Homo sapiens: one gene and its partners. The protein of the gene in region 1 purifies or fractionates together with the protein of each later gene. This does not show direct contact. Each region holds a gene or a part of one and is shown on either strand. Other genes may lie near its edges.

The links.
Region 2: the proteins of TAOK1 (region 1) and KLHL36 purify together in Homo sapiens (affinity purification with mass spectrometry, with the first as the bait; one large-scale study listed by BioGRID). This does not show direct contact.
Region 3: the proteins of TAOK1 (region 1) and ODF2 purify together in Homo sapiens (co-immunoprecipitation; one large-scale study listed by IntAct). This does not show direct contact.

Annotation. Positions count from the first base shown.
Region 1 is NC_000017.11:29,508,655-29,512,381, reverse strand, and holds part of TAOK1 (serine/threonine-protein kinase TAO1), read right to left. Parts: intron 1,519-3,727; coding exon 1,390-1,518; intron 1-1,389. UniProt on the Homo sapiens protein: Serine/threonine-protein kinase involved in various processes such as p38/MAPK14 stress-activated MAPK cascade, DNA damage response and regulation of cytoskeleton stability. Phosphorylates MAP2K3, MAP2K6 and MARK2.
Region 2 is NC_000016.10:84,651,284-84,655,010, forward strand, and holds part of KLHL36 (kelch-like protein 36), read left to right. Parts: intron 1-3,727.
Region 3 is NC_000009.12:128,469,506-128,473,005, forward strand, and holds part of ODF2 (outer dense fiber protein 2), read left to right. Parts: intron 1-1,802; coding exon 1,803-1,963; intron 1,964-3,407; coding exon 3,408-3,500. UniProt on the Homo sapiens protein: Seems to be a major component of sperm tail outer dense fibers (ODF).

The DNA of each region.
Region 1 (3,727 bases):
AACAAACAAAAAGCAGCACAAGAGCCGGGAGTGGTGGCTAACTCTTGTAATCCCAGCACTTTGGGGGGCCGAGGTGGGTAGATTGTCTGAGGTCAGGAGTTTGAAACCAGCCTGGCTAACATGGTGAAACCCCGTCTCTACTAAAAAAATATATACAAATTAGCCAGGCATGGTGGCACACACCTGTAATCCCAGCTACTCGGGGGGGTTGAGGCAGGAGAATCCTTTCAACCTGGGGGGAGGGGAGGCTGCAGTGAGCCAAGATCACACCACTGCACTCCAGCCTGTATGACAGAGTGAGACTTCCGTCTCAAAAAAAAAGCGGGGGGTAGGGGGGAGGCCGGGCAGCACAAGAAAGGGCAAACAAATATGAAACCCTGTAGCCACAAAGAAATAATCAGCATATTCTACTTAAAAAAAACCTGATAAGCAAATATCTCCCTTATTCTACATTTAAATTGGCATAAAAACAAATTATTATAATCTTCTGATCCAAAAGTAAGACATTATTGTTTACTTTTAAAGTAATAAATGTGATCAGGTGCGGTGGCTTATGCCTATAATCCCAGCACTTTGGGAAGCCGAGGTAGGCGGACTGCTTGAGCCCAGGAGTTTGAGACCAGACTAGGCAACATGGCAAGACCCTGTCTCTACAAAAAATAAATTTAAAAATCAGCCAGGAGTGGTGGTGTGTGCTTGTGTTCCCAGCTACTTGGAAGGCTAAAGCAGGATTGCTTGAGCACGGGAGGTCGAAGCTGCAGTGAGCTATGATTGTGCCACTGCACTCCAGCCCGTGGAACAGAATAAGACTGTCTCAAAAAATACACACAAAAAATAAAAACATAAGGCCAGGCACGATGGCTCATGCCTGTAATCCTAGCACTTTGGGAGGCCGAGGCAGGCGGATCACAAGGTCAGGAGATCGAGACCATCCTGGCTAACATGGTGAAACCCCGTCTCTACTAAAAAAAATACCAAATGTTTGCCGGGTGTGGTGGTGGGCGCCTGTAGTCCCAGCTACTAGGGAGGCTGAGGCAGGAGAATGGTGTGAACCCAGTAGGCAGAGCTTGAAGTGAGCCGAGAGCGCGCCACTGCACTCGAGCCTGGGTGACAGAGCGAGACTCTTTGTCTCAAAAATAAATAAATAAATATAAAATAAAAACATAAAAAAAGTATATTTTCAGGAAATGATTCATTTTAAATCCTACTCAACTAAATGACTCAGTTAAGGGTAACTGATTATAATCAATGTCATCATTTAAACTAATACCCATTTAGTGACCATAAACAACAAAAGATAATTTTATCCTAATGCTTCTATGAGTTGGTCACCATTGGATATAATTAATAAGCAGAAAATTTGCTTGGAAAGTTTTATGACATAAGTACCTCTTTAAGCTGCTCTTTTCGAAGTTTATACTCTCTTTTCTGGGACTCGAGAAAACTATTCAGTTCTTTCTTCTGTTGGGCCTGAATATGTTGCTGAAATTTTTTCTCTTCATTGGACATCACTTTAGCCTATATGAAGTTTAAAAAATGAATCAAATTTAGTTAAGTAGATAAAGTAGTGGTTTAATATACATCATTAAGAATACCTTTTATTTTCTAAGAACAAGAAATCATTAGAAACATTACCAAAATAAAAGACTGAACCAAATTATAAACATGTGCTACTTGGCATCCTTATAATTTGAACTTCATAGAATCAGTAAGATGAAACTCATCTTTGAAATGTTGATCTCTTACAGGGTCAAAAATGTTGTCAACTTTTTATTTCATTTAACAGAAGTATACCTTCCTCCCAACCCTCAATCCCTCAGTAAAACAAAACAAATGCTATATTTTATTTCTGATTCTATATGCAATACATGTTCATTGTAGAATATTTACAAAATACAGAAAAACAAGAAACATCTTACATAATTTTGGCATCCAGAGATAACCAATGTAAACATTTTGGTGCATATCTTTTGCAATTTTTTCTTTTTTTAAAATTATTATTTTTGAGATGGAGTCTTGCTCTGTTACCCTGGCTGCAGTGCAGTGGCACGAGCTCGGCTCACTGCAACCTCCGCTTCCCGGGTTCAAGTGATTCTCCTGCCTCAGCCTCCCAAGTAGCTGTGACTACGGGTGTGTGACACCACGCCTGGCTAATTTTTGTATTTTTAGAAGAGATGGGGTTTTGCCATGTTGGCCAAGCTGGTCTTGAACTCCTGAGCTCAGGTGATCCACCCACCTCGGCCTCCCAAAGTGCTGGGATTACAGGCGTGAGCCACCATGCCCGGCCTCTAATTTTTTCTATAAATGTTCATGTCTCAAACACACACACATACACATACACACATATATTTGCATGTATATAATTAAGTAGGTATTGTGGCTCATACCTGTAATCCCAACACTTTGAGAGGCTGAGGTGGGAGGATCACCTGAGCCCAGGAGTTCAAGACCAGCTGGGTAACAGGGCGAGTGCCTGTCTCAAAAAATATGTTACAGGGTCTCACTCTGTCACCCAGGCTGGAGTGCAGTGGTACAATCATGGCTCATTGCAGCCTCCTCCTGAGCTCAAGTGATCTTCCCACCTCAGCCTCCTGAGTAGCTGGAACTAAAGGCGTATGCCACCCTGCTCAGCTAATTTATTTTTTTTGTGTGTGGAGACAGAGTCTTCCCATGTTGCCCAGGCTGGTCTTGAACTCCTGGGCTCAAGTAATCTTCTCACCTCGGCCTCCCAAAGTGGTGGGATTACAGGTGTGAGCCACTGCACCCATCCTGGTTATATACTTTTAAAACAAATTTGTTACCACATTGCATATCTGCTTCAGGAATTGTTTTCCTAAATATGTTAGTATCGCCTTTTCCCAAGCTATTAAAAATAATATCTATCAAGTGTGGTGGCTCACATCTATAATCCCAGCACTTTGGGAGGCCGAGGCAGGAAGGTCACCTGAGGTCAGGGATTTGAGACCAGCCTGATTAACATGGTGAAACCCCTTTTCTACTAAAATAAAAATAATACAAAAATTAGCCAGGCATGGTAGATGAAAAATTAGCCAGGCATGGTAGATGCACCTGTAGTCTCAGCTACTTGGGAGGCTGAGGCAGGAGAATTGTTTGAACTTGGAGAGCAGAGGTTGCAGTGAGCTGAGATCACACCACTGCACTCCAGCCTGGGCGACAGAGGGAGATTCTGTCTCAAAAAATAATAAAAATAAAATAAAAAATAAAAAAATGAAAATATCCAATGCCCAGAGGATTTTAAATATGTATACATTGTTTCATCAAATTATTTCAAAATCAAGTATGTATTTATACTATAAATTATTTTGTCAGGGTCCCTACTACTATAAGAATGTTCTTTTTTTGTGAAAAGGGAGAAGAGGGTAGCTATGATAAATAATGCCTCACTGCAGACTACCTGGACATATTTTAATGATATTGTGTGAATTTACTGAGAAGTCTACATTCTACTTGACAAACATGGCTATCAAAAAAAGTAAAACAATGGGACACCAAAAACATTAGAAGAAAAGGTTTCACATAACAAAAATCCTAAAAACTAACTTTTATCATGTAAAATAATGACAATTATTTGTCAATAATCAAATGAGCTCAATCTGAATCTGAATCTTTCATAACTTATAATCTTCAACATTATCTGTATTTATTACAGTAATCTTAAATCATTCTGATATTAAAATGCTGCCAGAAATTCAAGGGTAGTTTCCAA
Region 2 (3,727 bases), on another chromosome or scaffold:
GGTCCATTGAGAACCCAGCCTTCTACCTTAGGGTGAGGGCAACACACCGTGTACCCGGACCCCAAGGGCCTGGAGTCGTCTTCCCTGGTCATGATTCCCTGCGACCTAAGAGCAAGTGAGGGCAAGTTCCCCAGAGCCAGGCTACTGGGGGAGTTCTAATTAGAAATATGTAGCCTGTTCCCACCAGCCACATTAAAATCCAAGAGCCAGACCCGGCTGCTATACTTTCCACAAACTCCTGTCCCCACAGCTGCTGTTGGTAAAGAGTGGGGGAGCCATTGGTATGAGGTTCCTGGTAACCTGTTTCCCCGTTATAAATATTCGTAATGCCCTCTGTTCTTTAGAGGTATCCCTTTTGGAGATTAAATCTTATGGTTACCTCAGATCATGGATTCTCAATGAGTATGATATTGCCCTGAAGTGGGAGAAAATTGGTTCTCGGGAGGGTGGAAGGAATTTTACTCCTTTTATGCATAAGACACAATTATACATACAGTACATGAGCAGACATACAGTGCATCTGTGATGTTAAGATTTTGCTGGGGAGGCTATTAGGGAAAAAAATCTTAAAAGCCTTCTTGTGGGGCAATAATGAAAAAAGATACAGAAACACTTCTTTAGATGAAGGGAGCTGGCAGCAGCCTATAGAGTTGAGAAAAAGGGGGAAAGAGATTCTACAGATTCTAAAAGAAAAACTGGCTGTCATTTTCAAGAGAGGTTGGCTCTCTTGAGATATGACCTCCTGTTCTCACGTGAGTTCCCCAAGAAGGTTCCTGCCAAGCCCAGCTTTATCGATTGTGAAAACCCAGAGAGGTCTCGCCGCTCGCTCACAAGGGCTTTGTTTGGGAGCTTAGCTTGGGAGACACTGCTGCTTTCTAAGTTTGACAGCACTGGAAGTCTTTGTCCATTAATGCCAGGACCCTGAGTTTGTTTCTGTCTGAACTGAATCTCTTAGGACTAGGCTTCTGTATCACTGGATGATGTTTCTAACTTTTTTTTTTTTTCGAGACAGGGTCTTGCTCTGTCACTTAGGTTGGAGTACAGTGGTGCGATCATAGCTCACTGCAGCCTCTACCTCCTGGGCTCAAGTGAGCCTCCCACCTCAGCCTCCTGAGGAGCTGGGAATACAGGTGCATGCCACCATGCCCAGCTAATTTTTGTATTTTTAGTAGAGACGGGGTTTCACCATGTTGGCCAGGATGGTCTTGATCTCTTGACCTCGTGACCCGCCAGCCTTGGCCTCCCAAAGTGCTGGGATTACAGGCGCGAGCCACCATGACTGGCCTGTTTCTAACTTTTTATTTTTAAAAAGTGTACCCATTAATTTCTAGACATTAAACACACCTATGTTGCCAGCACCCAGATGGGTAAAAAACAGAATACTACCAAACCCTCCCAGTTGTTACACTCAAGATAGTCGCTGTCCCAACCCCACCGCTGTGGTTTGATCTGCTTTTGAACTTTGTCTAAACGGGATCCGAGGTCGGGTACTCTTGTGTGTGGTTTCTTTTGTGCAACATTGTGCCTCTGAGCCTCACCCGTGTTGCTGCATGTAGTTGGTAGTGGTAGGTTTTGCTTTCTCAGCATGTTGGTGTCTTCCCACTGTGTGGCCACAGTGTCTGTTCACCTGTCTGCCCTAAGATGTGTTGCTCAGCCAGGCACAGTGGCTCACGCCTGTAATCCCAGCACCCTGGGAGGCCGAGGCGGGAGGATCTCGTAAGCTCGGAGTTTGAGACCAGCTTGGACAACACGGCTAAACCTCATCTCTACAAAAGATACAAAAATTAGCCGAGCCTGGTGGCATACACCTGTAGTCCCAGCTCCTCAGGAGGCCGAGGTGGGAGGCTCACTTGAGCCCAGGAGGTAGAGGTTGCAGTGAGCTATGATCGCACCACTGTACTCCAACCTAAGTGACAGAGCGAGACCCTGTCTCAAAAAAAAAAAGTGTTGTTCCTTTTTGATGCTAAATTCTTTTTCCACGTCTAATACCTGGTACCTGCCGCCTCCTCCCAGGTGTAAGCCCCCGACAACCTGAGTTTCTCCCTCTACTTGGCCTTGCATCTGATTAAGGCACTGAAATAGGAAATAAAGAAATGAACAAGACTCATATCATCAGAGAATGCTGTGGATTGGAGCTTCTAAGTTACCTGAAATGCGGAAACTCTGTTACCAATGTCCCTTTATAATTGGGAAATAGGCCAGGCGCAGTGGCTCACGCCTGGAATCCTAGAACTTTGGGAGGCTGAGGTGGATGGATCACTTGAAGTCAGGAGTTCGAGGCCAACATGGTGAAACCCCGTCTCTACTGATATATGTATATATGCCGGGAGTGGTGGCACCTGAGGTCAGGAGTTTAAGACCAGCCTGGCCAAAATGGCAAAACCCTGTCTCTACTAAAAAGACAAAATTAGCTGGGCATGGTGGTACATGCCGGTAGTCCCAGCTACTCAGGAGGCTGAGGCAGGAGAATCGCCTGAACCTGGGAGGCGGAGGTTGCAGTGAGCCGAGATCGAGCCACTGCACTCCAGCCTGGGCAACAGAGGGAGGCTCTGTATCCAAAAAAAAAAAAAAAAAAAGGGAACTCGTGTGCCTGTGTTTTTGGAAAGTTGTCTATGCAGCTGTGCTAAAACACCAGAAGCAGATTGCAGCTGATTGTACCCGGGTACAGCATCACTCCAGCCCACTTAGAGCAGAAACCCAGTTTTGGAAACAACACTGCTCTTGCCCCCTGCCCCAGCTCACTGGAGCTGGTGTCTCCCCTCGGCAGCCGTTCACTGGGGCTTTCCCCAGTCCTGCCCCCTGGGCTCTTTCCCTTTTGACACTGCAGTCTGGGGTTGTGTGTATCTCCGTCTAAGCATGGTAGGGCCAGCACCCTCACCAGCGTGGAGACAGCCAGGGTCCCCGGGTGGCAGATAGCCGCCTCATGCCCTCATATGCGTCTCTCAGGCCGCTAAGCCTGTACTATGACTTGATCACCGCCACTGTAGTACTTTTTAATTTCCTTCCTTCAGCTCACACCCAAGAGGGGCCTCCAGTCAATGTCTGTAGAAGCACTGACCATTCCTGCATAATTAGAAGCTGAGGCCTAGCACGGTGGCTTATACCTGTAATCCCAGCACATTGGGAGGCTGAGGCAGGAGGATCGTTTGAACTCAGGAGCTGAAGACCAGCCTGGGCAATGTAGTGAGACCCCATTTCTACAAAAAATAAAAGTAAAAAATAGCTGGATATGGTGGCACACACCTGTAGTCCCAGCTGCCAAGGAAGCTGAAGTGGAGGGATTGCTTGAGACTAGTTTTGTTTTGTTTTGTTTTGTTTTGTTTTGTTTTGTTTTGTTTTGTTTTGTTTTGTTTTTGAGATGGCGTTTTGTTCGTGTTGCCCAGGCTGGAGTGCAGTGGCTCACTGCAACCTCCGCCTCCGGAGTGCAAGTGATTCTCCTGCGTCAGCCTCCTGAGTAGCTAGGATGACAGGCGCCCGCCACCACAACCAGCTAATTTTGTATTTTTACTAGAGACGGGGTTTCACCATGTTGGTCAGGCTGGTCTCGAACTCCTGACCTCAGGTGACCTGCCCACCTCGGCCTCCCAAAGTACTGGGATTCCAGGCATGAGCCACCACGCCCGGCTGAGCCTAGGAGTTTCAGGCCGCAGTGATCTCTGATCTACTGTTGCATGCCAGCCTGGGAAACAGAGCAAGACCCTGTTTCTAAAAATGAGAAAAAATTTAA
Region 3 (3,500 bases), on another chromosome or scaffold:
TAGCTGGGGCAGCATGGGATCCCATCCCACCAACAAGGGCCCTCTCTATTGAGCATGTAGCTGTCCTGGTGCTCCACATGGGTGGTCCAATTTGAATTTTTACAACAGCATGTGAAGCCAGTGGTGTTACTGTCCTCATTACAGAGATGAAATACCTAGGAAACTAGGGCCTATGCCTTCCGCTTTATATAAGGTTTAACAAAAACAGGCCGGGCATGGTGGCTCACGCCTGTAATCCCAGCACTTTGGGAGGCGGATCCCCTGAGGTCAGGAGTTCGAGACCAGCCTGACCAACACGGTGAAACCCTGTCTCTACTAAAAAACAAAAATTAGCCATGCGTGGTGGCGTGCACCTGTAGTCTCAGCTGCTCAGGAGGCTGAGGTGGTAGAATTGCTTGAACCCAGGAGCCAGAGGTTGCAGTGAGCTGAGATTGTGCCATTGCACTGTAGCCTGGGCGACAGAGAGAGTCTCTGTCTCAAAAAAAAAAAAAAAAAAAAAAAAAAAAAAAAAAAATATATATATATATATATATATATATATAAATAAAAAAATTAACAAAAACAAAGCCCCAAAGAGGCCAAGGAAGTTTGTCCTCAGTTGCCGTGCTCTCTCTTGGGGTGGGATGTGACAATGGAATTGGAAATAGAACCTGGAAGTCCAAGGTCCCCAACTAGGAAATTGGCAGAGTTGTCATTAAAATCCAGGCCTTAGACTTGGATTGCTATGTCAGCCTATGTCTTCACTGCTAACACGACCTGTGTCTTTAATCCTCCACCCTGTACTCGAGGTCCAGGGAACCTCCTGGAGAACCTAGGGCTGGCTGCCTAGAATAGGCCCTTCTTGGCCAGGCGTGGTGGCTCATGCCTATAATCCTAGCACTTTGGGAGACTGAGGAGGGCAGATCACTTGAGGTCAGGAGTTCAAGACCAGCCTGGCCAACATGGTGAAACCCCATCTCTACTAAAAATACAAAAATTTGCCAGGCACACGCCTGTAATCCCGGCTACTTGGGAGGCTGAGGCAGAAGAATCACTTGAACCCAGGAGGCAGAGGTTGCAGTGAGCTGAGATCGTACCGCTGCACTCCAGCCTGGATGACAGAGTGAGACCCTGTTTCAAAAGAAAAAAAAAAAAAGCCCTTCTTCCCCTATAACTCAAAGTGCAAGAGCCTTTTTGTGACATCTCTCCTCCTATGGTGTGCCAGCCAAACCACGGTTTGCAACCTGGCTTCGTTCCCAACCCACAAGTCACTGGGGCTCTCTGTACTGAGTTTCCTCATCTACAAAAAGAAAATCAGCATCTCCCAGGAGAGTCAGTCTTCATGGCAGTTAACTGAGATTGCACCCATAAGGCCCTGGCATGCAGCCTGTGTAGTTCTCAATTGGAAGGCTCCTTATTTTTTTGTTTTTGTTTTTTTTTTTTTGAGATGGAGTCTCACTCTTGTCCGCCCAGGCTGGAGTGCAGTGGGCACGATCTCGGCTCACTGCAACCTCTGGCTCCTGGGTTCAGGCGACTCTCTTGCTTCAGCTTCCAGAGTAGCTGGGATCACAGGCATGTGCCACCACATCTGGCTAATTTTTGTATTTTCAGTAGAGATGGGGTTTCACCATGTTGGTCAGGCTGGTCTCGAACTCCTGACCAAAAGTGACCTACCCACCTTGGCCTCCCAAAGTGCTGGGATTACAGGCGTGAGCCACCACGCCCGGCCGGGGCCTTATTTTGGTCCAAAGCATTGAGCCTAGCAATGTGGCATAGAGGAAGGACCTCCCTTCAGTGGCCCCTGCCTGGGTCCCCCTGCTCAGGTCAAGATGCAAAAAGGTGAGCGCCAGATGGCCAAAAGGTTCCTGGAGGAACGGAAGGAAGAGCTGGAGGAGGTGGCCCACGAACTGGCTGAGACTGAGCACGAGAACACGGTGTTGAGGCACAACATCGAGCGCATGAAGGAGGAGAAGGACTTCACCATGTAAGGTGGCTCCTGCTCTGTCCCCGCTGATCTATTCCTCCCTACCAGGCTGCCTTGAGCCCTGGGCAATAATGGAAAGCAACGTAGGAGGTGGGCACAGGCACTGTGCCTGTGCCCTGGAGCCTGTTCAACAGTCACACAATTAATTACAGTTAATTACCTGGTTGTGCTTATGATTTGTACTATGAGGGAAAGGGAGGACCCCGTGGATTGTGGTGTGGGACTGGGTAGCAGGGAACTGTTTCTGGAACAAGTGATATTTAAGGGGTGTCCTGCAGGATGGTTAAGCATTCGGCAGGTGGGTGCTAGGGAAGAAAGCACGCTACTCAGTGGGAACATCTTATGCGAAGGCCCCAAGGTGGGAAAGTGTTTGTAGCTGAGAAATGGAAGGCAGGCCAGAGTGGGTGGGCAGAGGATAAGGGGGCCACATAGGTTGGCAGGGGGCTGGCTCTCAGCAGCCACTTTGAGGCATTTGCATTGAGGGCATTTGGAAGCCATGGAAAGGATTTATTTTATTTAATTAATTTATTTGGCCGGGCGTGGTGGCTCACGCCTGTAATCCCAGCCCTTTGGGAGCCAAGGCGGGCAAATCACAAGGTCAGGAGTTCGAGACCAGCCTGGCCAACATGGTGAAACCCTGTCTCTACTAAAAATACAAAAATTAAGCCGGGCGTCGCGGCGGGCGCCTATAATCCTAGCTACTCTGGAGGCTGAGGCAGGAGAACTGCTTGATCCTGGGAGGCATCTCAAAATTTTTGAGATGGAGTCTCGCTCTGTCATCCAGGCTGGAGTGCAGTGGCGTGATCCTGGCTCACTGCAATGTCCGCCTCCTTGACTAAAGTAATCCTCCTGCCTCAGCCTCCCAAGTAACTGGAATTACAGGTGCCCACTACCATGCCCGGCTAACTTTTGTATTTTTAGTAGAGATGGGGTTTTAGCTGTTGGCCAGGCTGCTCTCGATAACACCTGATCTCAAGTGATCTGCCCACCTCGGCTTCCCAAAGTGCTGGGATTACAGGCTTTAGCCACTGTATCCAGCCTACAGCCATGGAAGTTTTAAAAGCAGGGAGGTGGCCTGACTAGCCTTGGCTGCAGTGTAGAGAAGAGGTAGAAGGGCTCAAAATCGTATCTGAAGATGGTGCGTAGGAGGGCGTGACAGTGGAGGGGGGCAGTGCAGAGATGACAATGGTGGCTGTTTGAGAGAAACAGGGCCACAGGTAGCTAATGTCTCCTGGTGTGGAGGCCCTGGTCTGGTGCCCAGGCAGATGTAACTTCTGGCCCTGGTCCTTTCTGAAGGCCACCCAGGCCAGAAGGGCTGTCCCTGCCCCCTCCCCTACTTTTCCCTGACCAGAGGTGAGCCCCCTAGGGCATTGTGAGGCAAGCCTTGGATCTCTGGGCATGCGGGGGCCTGGGAGGGCTCACAGAGCCGTCTTTCTGGCCCCAGACTTCAGAAGAAACACCTACAACAGGAGAAGGAGTGCCTCATGTCCAAGCTGGTGGAGGCGGAAATGGATGGGGCTGCGGCTGCCAAGCAGGT